Regions from separate parts of the Homo sapiens genome. Here region 1 is linked to region 2. Evidence: fine-mapped expression QTL. A gene starts in region 2. The other region holds a variant in brackets. All regions are shown on one strand. Distances are between the middles of the regions. Region 1 overlaps LOC124901947 (a long non-coding RNA gene). Region 2 holds the start of MRPL15 (mitochondrial ribosomal protein L15).

Region 1 (4,395 bases), 650 kb before region 2:
AATAATCACAGGTAGCATAACAGGAACGTTAGTGGTAGTCTGTTGTTCCCTGTATTGTTGCTGTGGCCTATGGGTCCAAGGTGCTGCCCTATGTGCATGGGTCCCCACTAAGGACTCCCTTAGCCTAGGGGATAGAATGTAAGGCCTGTGTGCCAAACCTGTTTATCAAGCCTATGTGCCCCAAACTTATGTATAAAGCCCATGCCTGTGTATATTGAGTCTATGTACCCAAAGTTTATGCATATAACCTGTGTATCAAGCCCTACGTCTCCCTCAGCCCAGGGGGTGGAGTGTAAGGAACAAGGCTGTGCTTTGGTCAAGGGTAGGCCGAGGTAAACATCCAGAGTGACTCAATGAATTTAGAGCGCAGGTGTACAACTCCACTTGTTATCACAGCCATGTAGACTTAACATAGAGAAGCTCACCACCATAGCCATAACATAAGAAAGGCTCATCACCTGGCTCTAAGCCACTACTGTCTGTGAAAGGTATAATTGCCCTGTTGACACTCTATAGGTGCTGGCACCCAGAGAAAGAGAGAGTGAGTCAGAGCTGTCCATCTTTGCAGATGGACCAAGGGCAGCCAGAACATAGCTCAGCTCACTCATGCCCAGGGAGAGAAAGAGTTAAGCTGCTGACCCTGAAAGCAGGGGAGAGCCAGCTGCGCAGCTGTATGTGGGAGCCACTGGCTCAAGCAACCAAGACAGGGCAGACAGTGTGAGAAAGCTGTTGATGACAGTTGCTGCTGAATAAAATCATCTTTCACCTGTCTACGGGCCCTTGAGTTCTTTCTGCTCATCCACCCACTCCCTTCAGACCTCAACATGACATTTGGCATAGTCGTGAACCTGACAACTCTTCACATTCACTGTCACCCTTGCTTACCTCTCTCTCCATCCTCAAGCCTCTGCCATCTGGCTCCCACTCTCACCACTCCACTGAAACTTCTCTTTCTAAAGTCACCAATGACCTCATGTCCAAAACACATCACTTGACCATTTTCTAGTTTTAAAAACACTCTTTATTTTGTGCTTCTGTGATGCCACTCTCCAAATACTCAGCTCTTAACACATAGTAGTCTCTAGCACATAGTAGGGACTCAAAAATATATGTTGAATGAATGAATGAATAAAAGAATTGCTTCACTTATCTTTTTGCCACTCTCACTGTGCTGTAGATGCCTCTTTCTTGGTCCATCTCTTTGCCGCCTGTGGTTGCTCCTCAAGATGCAGTGACAGGCAATCTTCTCTTCTTATTTTACACTGTATACCTAGATGCCCTTACCCATTTGCAAGCCTTCATTTGTCCTCTGTGGGCAAACTCAAGACATCAAAACCTAAATCATGGAATGAATAGATGGATCCCAGAGGATTTTAAGAGCAGTGAAACTACTCTGCATGATACTACAAGGGTGGACACATGTTATTATAAACATAACCAAATCCATAGCATGTACAAAATCAAGACTGAACCCTAACATAAACCATAAACCTTGGGTGATGGTGATGTGTCAGTGTAAGTTCATGGATCGTAACAAATGCACTAGTCTGGTGGGGTATGTTGAGGGAAGGTGAGGCATGTGCAGAAACTAGAGATATACGGGAAAATTCCATATCTTATGCTCAATATTGCTATGAACCTAAAACTGCTCTAGAAAATCAAATCCATTGAAAAAAAAAACACTAAATCACCATCTTCCCCAATAAATACTAAAACCACTCACCAGGCTTCTTAGCCAGAAGCCTAGGAGCCACTCTCAATTGATATCATTCTTTCCACTAATAATGTTTCTACCAATAACACTGGTAGGAATGTTATTAAAGAAATCAATATTATTGGTAGAGAAGATACATGCATGTATTGGCCATCTACTAAAGTTTGTATAGTATAGACTAACTTCCCTAGGGAACTCCAGAAAGGTAAAACAAAAAGCAAGTGAAATTGCAAACTCCCACTGGAGCCAACTAGAAGAAAAAAAGTAAACTGGATTCAGATTGGAGACATTTCAGACACTGGCTGACTGGGCACAAAAGTGGCTTGTATGCCGCAGGATTAAAGATGAATCTTACATTAAGAGAGAAAAGGCATTTTGGCCTTTGTTATCAGGAGAAAACTCACTGCCCTCTGTGAGAGCTTCTCTAGGTAGAGGATGATGAACCCTTGCTAGATATGTTGCCTTTG[C/T]AATACTGGACAGAGCCTGGACACTGAATATAGACTAAAGTCTACAATGAGACCAACACAGATCCCTGCTAACAGGGATGTTGTGGAAAAGCAGGCTCTATAAAATTTTATATTAAGAGAAATGCAATGAATCAAAATGATGTTAGTAACTTTCACTAAAATATTGCATACTGACATTATATCTCTTGAAGCTATATTTCTCTGTCAATTTTTATGTTCTATATAATCTATGGCCAAATTGTATTGTTTAAAATGGAAAAAAAAAACATATATGTTCCGCCTTCTTAACTGCCAGCTTCTTATATAAGACATTTATTTTTCAGGAAAAAAAATCTCAAATGTGCTCTAGCAGTTACCTAGGAGACAAGAAAGGACAGGACATGATTTGGACATATCTGAGACTCTAACCCCCAAAATTCTAACATTTCATACCTAAATAATTAGATGATGTATGCTATATCCTTTCTCTAAGTTCATTTCACATTTAAGAATCAGGTGTTTATTAAGATTTTAGAAGCTTCTGATCACCTTGTTTGGGTAGATTTAAAAAAATAAAATGAAAAAAGTGTCAGTGGCCTCTTAATAAATTAACTGACAAAAAATAAAGCAGGAAAATACTACACAAAACAAAATGTTAATATCTTCACCGGGATTGAATAAGATTTCATTAGAAATCCACTTTACATATTCTTTACCTTCAAAGGTCATCCTATTGAATTCAAAAATTCTCTTGAAGTATCTTTTCCAGTCCTAACTCGATAGAGAAAGAAATGCAATCCCTGTGTAATGGTAGAACATAAACCTCAAAGACTCCCTTCGCTTTTTTCTAAGTAACATGGACTGGCAAGTACAAGAATGGACTAAGAACAACAGGAGTTGAAGTATCCTAATTATCTGGGGGGTGTAGGTCGACCTAAACACACCTGTGCTCTTCTTCTCATCTAACCTTACCTAAGTCACTTACATGAGGACAGAAAATGAAGCCAAGTCATCACACTTCTCAAAGAATCCAAGAAGAATTATTGGAAAGGAACACCAACAGACCACCAAATCTAGTTTCTACTATCCGGCCACTACAGGACATGACCAGGGAGTCTCTCTTTTTAGAATTCTCCAGAGAGAAATACCCATCAATTTCCCTCGGAAACTTTCAGTTTCCTGAGTCACATATAACAAATTATGACACAGGTAGGAGCTTAAAACAACAGACATTTATTCTCATAGTTTTTGAGGCCAGAAACCCAAAACCCAGATGTCATCAGGACCATACTCCCTCTGGGGGCTCTGCAGAAAAATTCCTTGTCAAGCTTCCATAGTGGTGGACACAACACTCCAATCTCTGGCTCCTGCTCACGCTGCCTCCTTTGCCTCCGTGCATGTCATCTCCCTCTGCATCTCTCACAGATGCTTGTGATTGGATTTAGGGTCCCCCAAATAATCTAGGATAATCTCCCCATCTCAAGATTCTTAATCACATCTGCAAAGACCCTTTCTGCCATATAAGGTAATACACACAGATTCCAGGAATTTGAATGTGGATATCTTTTAGGAGGAATGATTATTCAGCCTACCACAGAAACCCATGAAGTTTGTTACACTCAACCCATATAAACTTTTGGATGAGTTTGAGACAACCTGATTTAGTAGTTGGGTGGTTTATTTATTCATTCAGTTAACTGATATCTAGCCTGCACTAACTGCGCCAGATATGCTAAGCCTGGGAATACAGCTGTGCAACAGACAAACATGGTCGTGGTTTGCAGAAAATGAATTTGAACTCAAACACTTGCAATGTCATGGAAGTTGCAAATGGCAGATCCATGGTGAAGGGTCTATTTATAATTGGGAAATGAAGTAATGTGGCTTTTTTTTAAATAATATGTCATATTACTTCATTTCCCAATGAAGTAATCCCCATTTTCCCAATTAAAAATTCCACTGCTATTGAGAATGCCCAGAGGAAGGACTGGAAATGCCCAAGCAAGACAGGTAGGCAAAGAGCTCCCATGCAATGTCAAAGGTACATACATACAACCCAAGCTGGATTTCTTTCTGTCATTCCACCCCATATCTCACTAGAATATCATGCAGGGGAGAAGCTTAGGGCTAGGAGCTAGAAAAAACTGTCAGGGTCTCTCATCTTGCAGGCATCAGATCCTCTGCCTCATAGCCTGTATTTTGATAGGTTTCATTATTTTTTTCAGGTGTGGTGAA
Region 2 (4,395 bases):
GATCATTTGAGGTTAGGAGTTTCAGACAAGCCTGGCCAACGTGGTGAAACCCAGTCTCTACTAAAAAACCAACCAAACAAACAAACTAAAAAAGCTGTACGTTGTGGTGCATGCCTGTAATCTCAGCTACTGGGGAGGCTGAGGCAGGAGAATCGCTTGAACCTGGGTGAGGAGCCTGCAGTGAGCCGAGATGGCGCTACTGCACTCCAGCCTGGGCGACAGAGTGAGATTCCATTTCAAACAAACAAACCAAAAATCATTAAAGGCAGAAAATAGGTTCTATTGCCCCCCACACCCCATTCTATTTCTTCTGTGCTTCTAAATAGAGTCTAGACTTTACCATCATATCATTTTATCGAACTCACATATTTTGTTTTTGCTAATTAGTCTACAAGAGGCCTACTTTTATCTTTAACTTTTAAAAAACATTCACGGGCCAGGCGCCGTGGCTCACGCCTGTAATCCCAGCACTTTGGGAGGCCGAGGCAGGGGGATCACCTGAGGCCAGGAGTTGGAGACCAGCCTGGCCAACATGGCGAAAACCCGTCTCTACTAAACATACAAAAAAAAATTAGCGGGGCGTGCTGGTGAACGCCTGTAATCCCAGCTACTCAGGAGGCGGAGGCGGAAGAATTGCTTGAACCAGAGAGGCAGAGGTTGCAGTGAGCTGAGATTGAACCATTGCACTCTAGCCTAAGCAACAGAGCGAGACTCTGTCTCAAAATAATAATAATAATAATTCACTTTTGGAAACTGTTCCCTACTAGATTTCAAACAACTTGGGAATGAAATCCTATTTGAGTTCATCCATGTGTATTTCCAACAAGTTCAGTGTCTTACTTATAAATAGTACTTGAAGGAATGAATACAACTTTTTCTTTATGTAGTTATTTTACACTTGATTTAAAGGAACTTTAAAAAGACGCAGTTATACCTAGAGACAGACGCCCTCCAAAAATTGTCTCACCTTCATTATTTGTGATTACTAGTTAGAGCTAGCAGAAAAAACTCCCCAGCAAGTGAAATGTCAAACCACTACTAAAAGAAAGAAAAAGAAAGGAACAGTCTTTTCTATATTTAAGTCACTTGAGAGAAAAAAGAAGAGCTGGTATTTTTCGAGTAATAATGTTCGTATTTTGTGATGCAGATACTCAATTTTACATTCTAAAAATACTACTTTTATAGTAGGAAGCAGTGTACGTTTGAATCCTGGCTCTGCCGCTTGTTGCAAGAAGTTGGTCAAGCTATCGGACCTTGCTAAGCCTTCCCTGTTGTAACTGTAAAATGTAGTAACACCATTTACCTCTAGAATGGCTGTAAATCGAGTAAGGCTTATTTAATACAGCGTCTGGCATACACCAGGCATTCAGTATGGCGCCAGTCATTAACAATAGGTGGTTACTAACTGCGATTCACTCAAAACAATACAGATGCACACGGATGAGAGTTCACACTTTGAGTCTTATTCAAAGATTGGTTATTAGCCAGGCATTTTGATAGGTGCACTCAGTTTTATTTTCGTACCTCACGGTGTATAATTACGCAAGCTCAAAAGCTAATAATTGACAGCTCACTTTGCTTTACTCTGGGTTCTGCATTGACCTCAGAGAAGACACGGCCTAGACAAACAGGCAAGGCCCAACACTGACTCAAAAAAGATCCTTTATTTAACGCAGTGTTTTTAGTGCATGCTCTCGTTTGGCGAAAGAGAAGGTTTTACGTTCAGAATATTAAAAGGGACCCCGAGGACAAAGCAGGATCTCGGAAAATAAGATCACATCCCCAAACAACTAAAAGGACAACCGAGACAAGGTTGCAGACTCCCACGCCTCTGCCCGACTCCCGGGCTTGCGCGCGCGGCTGCAGCGCGACAGGGGCGGGGCCACGGCCACAAAGCAGCCCCCGAGACCACGTGGCCTCCGAGCAGCTCAGGGCGCCCTTGAAAGTTCTTGGATCTGCGGGTTATGGCCGGTCCCTTGCAGGGCGGTGGGGCCCGGGCCCTGGACCTACTCCGGGGCCTGCCGCGTGTGAGCCTGGCCAACTTAAAGCCGAATCCCGGCTCCAAGAAACCGGTAAATGGGTGGTGGCGGTGCGGGGAAGCGCTGGGGACCCGGGCGATGAAAGCGGCCCTTCTCTCCCTGTCATTAGGAGAACTGCCCTTTCTAGGAGAGTGTTGGGATGAAAATAGGATTGCCTCATGCCTGTTCTCCCTTACTGCCCAGAGGGGAATCTTTCCACGTGCACCCAGTTCTTTTTTTTTTTTTTTTTTTTTTTTCCGAGACGGAGGCTTGCTCTGTCGCCCAGAAGCAATTCTCCTGCCTCAGCCTCCCGATTAGCTGGGATTACAGGCGCCCGCCATCACGCCCGGCTAATTTTTGTATTTTTAGTAGAGACGTGGTTTCACCGTGTTGGCCAGGCTGGTTTTGAACTCCTGAGCTCGCGATCCGCCTGCCTCGGCCTCCCAAAGTGCTGGGATTACAGGCGTGAGCCACCGCCCCCGGCCGCACCCAGTTCTTAATAAGGTTATGTTTACAAGTGTAAAGATACCAGGCGGAGAAGCCGACTCGCTGAAACTACAAAGTCTTTGTGTCATTCAAAATTGGATTTAAAATGAAATGTTTTCCCGGTGTATCTTTATGTTCATTGGAAAGATCTGAATTGCAGCTGTCCCTTCTGCAGTTGACTAAATAGAGCTAGAAAAGCTGTTAGTTGACAATGTACTGTCATTTTAACAGTCAGTTCATTGCTTTCGTGAAATGACAGGAAATTAAGGAAAAGATTTTCTTCAACAGATCAGTTTTCAAATAAAATTACAGGTTTATGAATAACATTTGCATATTTACAATTAATTTCAGAATAAATTCTTGCCTATCATTTAAAATGTTGTGAATATTTAATTCTAGGATTTTTTTCGGTTTCAACCTATTATAAAAACCTTATCCCCATCCTAACCTTTACTTTTTGCTTTTGAAACACACTTGGACTTTGGTTACAAGAATTAGCTATGTCTTTAGAGGCAAAGATGCTAACAGAGTGTGTGGAGCTTTGAGCAACTAGGACATGCTTGACACAATAGTGTTAGCTAGCACTGGTGGGCTGGATGAATGAACAGCATAACAAAAAGTGAAGAGCTGAAATGCAGTTTTTAGAAATGCATCTGAAATTCATAAAATTCTTTTTTTTCCTTGCAGGAGAGAAGACCAAGAGGTCGGAGAAGAGGTAGAAAATGTGGCAGAGGCCATAAAGGAGAAAGGCAAAGAGGAACCCGGCCCCGCTTGGGCTTTGAGGGAGGCCAGACTCCATTTTACATCCGAATCCCAAAATACGGGTTTAACGAAGGACATAGGTAAGGTTGCTTTGCTTTTTAAAGTACAGGTCCCCAATTTCCATTAAAAAGCACCTAAAAATAGTTTGGTAGAAATTTTGGTGGAAATTGTAAATTCACTTTGAAGCAAACTTTTGCTACTGTTCCCCTGAACCATTTTTTGGTAATGAAATCTTGCCTGGATTATTAAAAGGAAAAGAGGCCCAGACACTGCACTTAGACCTGCAAAATGGAGATTCTAATGCCAGCTCTAATGGTTATTAAAAGAGTGAGCAATAATAGACAGTATACATAAAAATCTGGCCCACTGTAGTCACCTAATAAATGATAACTACCATTATTACTTTGAGCTCCATAGTAAGTTAAATTTTCCACAGATTTATTTGTGTAAATAAGTGAAGTAAATGCTTAGAGAGGGAAATAATTTTTAGTGGAACAAAGGTGGTACAGGTTTGTTTTCATTACCCAAAATCAAGCAGTATTACATGTTTGTGTTACACTCAAGAGGGTTTTGTTTAGTTAAATAAAATTGGTGGAGGAAAACACAAGACAAAGCTTTGAGTTGATTTCGAGAAGTTACAGGAAGATGAGAGTTTTCCAACTCTTACATTCTTGTTTTACAGTTTCAGACGCCAGTATAAGCCTTTGAGTCTCAATAGACTGCAGTATCTTATTGATTTGGGTCGTGTTGATCCTAGTCAACCTATTGACTTAACCCAGCTTGTCAATGGGAGAGGTGTGACCATCCAGCCACTTAAAAGGGATTATGGTGTCCAGCTGGTTGAGGAGGTAAGTCTTGATTAGATCTTTTGGTGTTATATAGGAGGATTTTTTTTTTAGACAGAGTCTTGCCCTGTTGCCTGAGCTGGAGTACAGTGGCGCAATCTCGGCTCCTGCAACCTCCACCTCACAAGTTCAAGTGATTCTCCTGCCTCAGCCTCCTGAATAGCTGGGATTACAGGCACCCACCACCATGCCCAGCTAATTTTATTTGTTTTTAGTAGAGACAGGGTTTCACTATGTTGGCCAGGCTGATCTTGAACTCCTGACCTTAAGTGATCTGCTCACCT

The links. PIP is the estimated chance that this variant, and not a neighbour inherited with it, causes the effect.
Region 1: its variant is the best candidate, but not a certain one, in a credible set for the expression of MRPL15 in whole blood (INTERVAL, PIP 0.82).

Annotation. Positions count from the first base shown.
Region 1 is chr8:53,488,008-53,492,402 of GRCh38, forward strand. All of the region lies in intron 1 of LOC124901947 (a long non-coding RNA gene), which reads left to right. Among named protein-coding and RNA genes, the nearest start is that of LINC02984, 34 kb to the right of the region's middle. The variant C/T (reference allele first, on the strand shown) is at 2,182.
Region 2 is chr8:54,133,320-54,137,714 of GRCh38, forward strand. MRPL15 (mitochondrial ribosomal protein L15) reads left to right here and starts at 1,922. Exons shown (of 5, transcript NM_014175.4): 1 at 1,922-2,072; 2 at 3,192-3,346; 3 at 3,949-4,114. The coding sequence starts at 1,965.